Linked DNA regions of Homo sapiens. The protein of the gene in region 1 purifies or fractionates together with the protein of each later gene. This does not show direct contact. Each region holds a gene or a part of one and is shown in the gene's direction. Other genes may lie near its edges.

Region 1 (3,500 bases):
CCAATGAGTCATTATAAATCTGTCCATCCATTAATCTACATGGGTCACAAACACATTCATCACATTACGTCCCATCACTAAGGTCATCATTATTGAATCCTACCTTGTGGCCTTAGGTTTAGCTTGAGACACAATATCATAATAATGGCTACCAGTTAATGATGCACTAGGCACTTGGTTTATTTCATTAAGTCACTATAACAACCCTGTAGAGGAGGTATCGTTATCATTCCTGCTTTAGATCTAGGCAAACTACTTGTCAGAGAGGTGAAGAAGTAACTTGCCTAATGTCATACCACTACAAAGTAATGAAACTGGGGCTTGAAAGCAGATCATCCAGCCCAAGACCCTGTGGTCCACCCCATCCCACTGCACAAAGCATGCTCAGGCACTGCATGGTCATCTCCAACCTTGAGTATTGTTTTAGGATCTCATTTGGGAGCATTTGGTGGAATTATGGCAAATAATATGCTATCCCACAGTAGAATACTTGGTAAACATTTTCAGAAATTAATTTGAGTCAGGATTTCGGTCTCTTGAAACCCCCTTCAGCTGGTCTGTAGTGTGTAATATCAGTGGAAGTTATTCTAATGGCTTAATTTACCAAAATATCAAATCCAGGACCAGTTAAAAGCCATTTATTCTCCTAAATAATTGTGGCAACGTAGTTTTTTTAATGCATTTAGAATTTCAGAGTAGTCAGGTATGATCATTCAGAAAAAAGTAATTTAAATGAGTTATGAAGGCTATATTTAATATATCCTAATATGAGAGGCTTAAATCTAAACCAGTGATTTCTAATTTTTTTGGTGGGGTTTTATAATTCTCTTTGAGAATTCAATATACACAATTTCTGGGGGTTTGTGAAATTCTCCTACTCTCTTGTTGGCACACTAAGGGCCCAGAGGCCCAGAAATGTCAATGTGAATCTATTCCATTAATCTAGAGTTTAATGAATATAGAGTTCAGTAAAGTTGACAAATCACAAAATGTCATAGCTCTTATTGGAAGCTACAGTCTTCAGGCTGTGGAATTGGTGGGACTTTATCTGGAGTTGCTGCAGTGGGAAGCTGAAAAGCATTGGGAAACATGTCTGATCTGCCTGGACTTCCTCAAGGAGCTGGGTCCCTGGAAACTTTTAGGAAGAATCATACCACTCTCACAGGTCTCCTGTGTTGTGGGTGAAATCCTGTGTTGAAGGCTAGGGAAGTGTCTGAGGACACTTAGCAAGTTGAGGCTGCTGAAGAACTTTAAACTCATGTAAACATGCAGAAAATAATAAGCGTTGCTTACGCTTCTCATAGGCACACACTAGGGCTATGCCTACATTACACAACACCAACCAGAAGAACAATGAAAACTTCAGGCATCCAAAGGAGATATTTATTTAAATATATATGCACGTGTACATGTACATACATTAAAATGTTAAGTTTTATAAGAATATATAAGTAAAAAGATGACTATCATTTGGCACAGGGCATGGCATATAGCAAGAAATGATAAATGTTATTAAAATGTGTGTATGTGTGTGTATGTGCGTTTTGAGTATTCTTTGTTTTCCAGCTTTTGTCGTGACAAACATGACTACAAACGACATGTTTGTACATATGGCTTTGCACACATGTGTGACTACATCTGAAGGGTAAATTTTTATAACTGGAATTATTAAATCAAAATGTGTGTGCATTGTAATTTTGAAAGATATTGCCATATTGTGCTAGAAAGTTATTCTTGTACTCTTGGTATTAATCACTATTTTATATAATATCTCAATATGGATGTAAATGCATATTAATGTTTATCTGTAATATGTATATGGGCCACCATGCTTAATATTTACATAGTCTACATATACATCAGAACCAAAAGCCAGTGCTTGACTACCTGACGTTAGGATGAATTTCTCCTTATTCACAAGCTACTTATTTTGCCCTTCCTATATATCCTAAAATAAATGGGGTAATCTAGATATTTGTTCACATGAGAGCCTGGTGTTCCACTACTAAGTTGTAGAAGCATAGATATCAAAGCTGGATAAAAAGCAAGACAGCCGGGTATACTTGGGGATGCTATCAATGTGTTTATGTTGTTGTTTGGTTGGTTAGTTGATTTGGCTTGGTTTGCTTTGGCAATGATATTTAACAAAACTTGGTTGTAGGTTGGGAGAAGTTAAAAATTCTTGAGCAAATAGTGAGTTCTTAAATTACTTCTGAATTTTATTAACTCTCTTTATGTTATATTTACATGGATAACTGAGTTAAAGAAGTTAGCTCTCAAATATAGCTTCCTTTATGTGTAAAGAAATTGCATTTAAAAACAAATCTACTTGCAAACTGATAAGACAAATACCAATATCCACATTAACTAGTTTGGTAAGGATCCAAAGGTAATCAGGTGTCCAGTGGTGATGGAGAGCTAGAAATTAGGCTGGTGACCCACTGGAGTGCTTCTAGATGGTTTTACAGTTAAGAACTGTAGGCTACTATTAGAGGCAAAGAGGCTGCATTCATAGTTCTGAAAGGCAAAACTGCTGATCTTTAACGTTTAACTAGTTAAGGGTGGGAACATATAACATTAAAATGCTGGTATGTCAAAATGCGGAATTGCTTCACTGAACCCACAAATGAGTTTCGAGTGAAGTGACCTTGGCAGGTAATCAGACATTTTCTGCTTGTGACACAATCAGGATTATCTTTCTGAACAAATTTACCTTTTGCACTATCCTCTTAGACTACTTCTGGTACTTAACAAGTTTATGTATAATTAACTAGTTTTGTAGTTAAAAGTAAAAGTTGATGGAACACCACCAACTTTTGAAGTTATAATTTTCCAGTCAGTAAACTGAAGTATATTCACATATTCCAATCAGTAAACTGAAGCATATGCATATATAGCAACACAAGAAGTAAGGGTATCATTGGGAGAGGAGTCTAATTTATCCCAGTTTAATAACAATGTTCTCATTTCCAGTCAAGTAACTGAAATATTTTAGTAATATTTAAAGATATTTTACCAGCATAAGCATTCTGAACCAAAAGTGGAACCTGTATGATTTATGTAAAGCAAAATAATTTTTAAGGAGCACCAATTAAGTGCATTTAAAGTATTAACTTTTAAAACGTGTTAATTAAAAGCCAGGCTTTTAGCTTGAATGACCTGGAATCAGTTAACAATACAGCAAATACCCTGACACCCATCTATCATAGTGGCTGCAACTGTCAATACTACACAAATGCTTCAGACAAATGATGTTATACAGAAGACATAAGAGTAGTGGGCTTTTTCCACTCATATTTTTACTGATGTCCAAATGAAAAAGAAAAAGAAAGCTTGATTCCTTCTGTATTAAAGTATTGTCATAGTCAGATAACAGGTTGATAGCAGAATTCAAATCAACCAGAAACTCAGACTTCATATTCCCAATTCACTGTTTCACATGTTGGTCATAGATTTCTGTGACAAAATGGTCAGTAAGCACTTGGCCTTGGGCAATGCAA
Region 2 (3,500 bases), on another chromosome or scaffold:
ATTACCTAGGAAATACTGGGTTATAGTGTTGATGTGCCTGAGAAGCCAAGTCGTATGCAAATGAAATGTTTGAGGACACTGTAATATGCTTACTCACTCATTTCCAGCATCTGATAACATGGCTTGCTGTCATTCTGTCAGCTTTGCAACTGAAAATACGTTTTCCATTTTTTCCTAACCAATGAAGTTAGCCTTTCATTCCCGTCGGTCACAGCTCACCAGCAGCCATTTTTAGTGGGCCATGTTCACTGTTGAGCCACACCTTTTCCCAGCCATCGTTTGTCTGTACAACATACTAACAGGATGGAAAGCACCCAGCCCATGTTGGATGTGTGCACACTTCATGCAAATGCCTACCCTCTTCCTGCTGACTTAGTTTTAGAGTATAAGGTACTCATCTATAGAGGAAGTTTAAAATATTCTAGGCAAGCTTTTGAGGGTGTTAAATGAGAAAATGTGCCAAATCACTTTTTAATTTTCAGTACCCTGCCAATAATATGTAGTATGTTTATCATTATTGTCATACTGTCAAAACAATTACATCACATTTCTTTCAATTAATCAAAAAGAGGTTCATAAGAAACAAGCTGATGGTGGAGGTAGCGGCAGTGGCTTCCACACCAGGAAAGAGGCCGCTGAATGTGGGAAGGGACCCGAGTGCGCCAAGCCACCCGTCCCACACCCCACCGCGCCCTCCCGGGAGCAGCTGGAGATGCCCAGCACCGGGTTTTATGACTCTGTTGGAACTTTTCAGTCTTTCTCTCTGTTGCTGTGACACTTGCCCCTGATTTGAGGAATATTGCTCAAAAACGTATTTCCTGGTAGATTGAGGATGTTTTTACAATATAAAAGCAACGACCCCCTAAAGTCAAGAATTGCAGTATTTCTTCACCTTAACCAATCATAAGAGAGATAAAAGAACTGTTCCTTTGTGAATGGTACAAGTTAATTACCACAGTCTCCCCTATGATGCTTTTCATTTGGTTTGGTAATTTTTCTAATACTTTCTCCTTGTAAAAGCTAAACATCCCACAGTTTTCTTTTTAAAATTCTTTCCTTTTACCTTCATGTAAAGAACTTACATTGAATTTTTAAAGCATCTATATAGCTCTCCATTTTTCTACAAGTTTTAAGTAGACTGTAATTATTACAAGACATTGGCTGTAGATCAGGCCCTGTGCAGGCCAAATACTGTAAACACCCCACTGTGTCATCTTTCAGAAGGTCATCCCCATTTCTTAGAGTAACTGGATTATCCCCAGCTGCTTGTTTTGAAAAGACTCCTTTTAAATTAAACATGTTCACATTAAGCTCTCCTCTATCACTAGCATCCTTTCGAAGATGTTTTTCCTTTAGCTTTTCAAGTAGCGTTTCATTTCCTATTTGAGTTTTTCTGACCCCGTTGCTACAAAGCCTCCACCTGGTAGCTACACCTTCGCTTTTACTTTTACTTTTTCTATTGTTTTTCACTTTTACTTTTTCTCATATTTCCTTGCTTCACTGGCTTTTATTGGCTTCTCAATAATTAAGGGATGCTTAAGAATTTGTCAGCAGTTCTCCTGTGCAAGGCTTCAACTTCAGTGTGGCTGTTTGTGTTTCAGGTCAAGTTTTAAGCAGGCTTTGGAAGCCCTGCCCCAGCTTTCCAGTGGAGCAGATAAAAAGTAAGTCCTGTGTGCTGTTCTTAGGAGCCAGTTGAATGTGCTCAACAAGGTTTTGTTTCCTAAAATACCTTTTAAAAATAATGATTTGGATTCTAGGAAGAGCAGAATCCAAATAAGAATCAGAATAAGCAGATATACCTACTTAATAGCGTTAGTAGGTACATCTCGTCACCTGTAACTTGCATGTCTTCTGAGTGACAGAATAAGGTAAGACCTTTCTTCTGGGTTTAGGAGAATTTAGAAGTTGGCTCTCGTTTCAAGTGACTGGTATAGAAAAGGTCTTAAGAAAGCTATCTATGACTTATTCAGTAAACTGTATTAGTAGCATACATAAGAAGTAATGGAAAAAAGAAGACAGCATAGTAAAATGCAGGAGTCGGTGATTTTTTTTTTAATTTTTGAGTAATTCAGTAGTATTTATTTTGTGTTCTATAAAATACAAAATGTTATGAAAGTAGATGTGCACATATGGCATAATAAAGTTTTATATATACATATATATTTCATTAGACCACACTGATGATCTCAACCTGAATTTAAACTTTACTACTCATAGAACAGGAAACGGACCTAAGAGAAAATCTAGGCCAGGTAAATTTCATAAATGCCCAGGCTCCCCCGAGCTGAGGCAGTCTTCATTCCTTCACCACCCGCCCTGCACGTGGCTGCCGGGCCCATAGACAGGCACATGTGGTGCACTGACTGAAATGCTGGCACCGTGAATGCAGTGCAGACTCAGTGCAGGGCAGAGAGATCACATAGGCTGGGCCATGGGGGGGAGCTGTCACATGGCATCGACGCACAGAGCAGGCAGCAGACCAGCCCTTCCACCATCAGTCCCCGGGGGCATCGCCGCCCCGCCCCGCACGCATCCCACGTGGGCACATGGCAGCTGTGCAGACAGTGCCTGCACAATCAGCCCTTTCTTCCTTTTTCTTGCTGCTTCTCTAACTTCCATCCTCTATTTGAATTGGTTCCAAACCCTGTTCATTTCTTTAAAATAAATATGATAAAAGATTGAAACAGTCACTGCTACGTTTCATATGTGGAACAGGGCTCAAAAGGTAGTGTGTCACGAACAATACACACCCTGAAATGGCCCCAGGTCAGGACTATATTTTAGATTTGCTGTGGGGATAGCATTCTAATATTGAACATTGTTAAACCGTGAAATAATCTCTTGACCTCAGTACTGTTAAACCCAGTTCTTGGTTGCTGCATCCAAACCAGGAAAACTCTAAGATCCTTCCTAGCTTTAAAAATTAGATGACTTGGGCCGGGCGCAGTGGCTCATGCCTGTAATCCCAGCACTTTGGGAGGCTGAGGTGGGCGGATCACGACTTCAGGAAATCAAGACCATCCTGGCCAACATGGTAAAACCCCGTCTCTACTAAAAATACAAAAATTAGCCGGGTGTGGTGGCGGGCACCTGTAGTTTCAGCTACTCAGGAGGCTGAGGCAGGAGAATTGCTTGAATCCGGGAGGTGGAGGTTGCAGTGAGCCGAAATCGCGCCACTGCACTCCAGCCTGGGCGACAGAGCAAAACTCCATCTGAAAAAAAGAAAAAAAATTAGATGACTGTATCACATCAGTTGGGGAAACAGATTGCGATATCAGGCAGCAAAGCGATTTGCCTAGTGGAATTAGCCCCTAACCCTGCTTGCCCTGGTGGTTAACTCACTGCTTTCGCTCCCCACTCTCTAATACCTGTTAATACAAAATGAGAGGAAGGGAAAGTCAGCAGTGGCTGCTGGGAGATGGGGTTAGGGAAGAGGCTGACTAGAGGGGCAGCAGGGGAAAGGGTGCAGCCATGCCACGTGCTGTAGCCTGTTACACTCC

What was found. The genes of interacting proteins can lie anywhere in the genome.
Region 2: the proteins of EDNRB (region 1) and EXOC2 purify together in Homo sapiens (affinity purification with mass spectrometry; 2 studies listed by BioGRID and IntAct, with this or other methods). This does not show direct contact.

Annotation. Positions count from the first base shown.
Region 1 is NC_000013.11:77,912,332-77,915,831, reverse strand, and holds part of EDNRB (endothelin receptor type B isoform 1 precursor), read left to right. Parts: intron 1-3,500. UniProt on the Homo sapiens protein: Non-specific receptor for endothelin 1, 2, and 3. Mediates its action by association with G proteins that activate a phosphatidylinositol-calcium second messenger system.
Region 2 is NC_000006.12:487,140-490,639, reverse strand, and holds part of EXOC2 (exocyst complex component 2), read left to right. Parts: intron 1-1,601; coding exon 1,602-1,661; intron 1,662-3,500. UniProt on the Homo sapiens protein: Component of the exocyst complex involved in the docking of exocytic vesicles with fusion sites on the plasma membrane.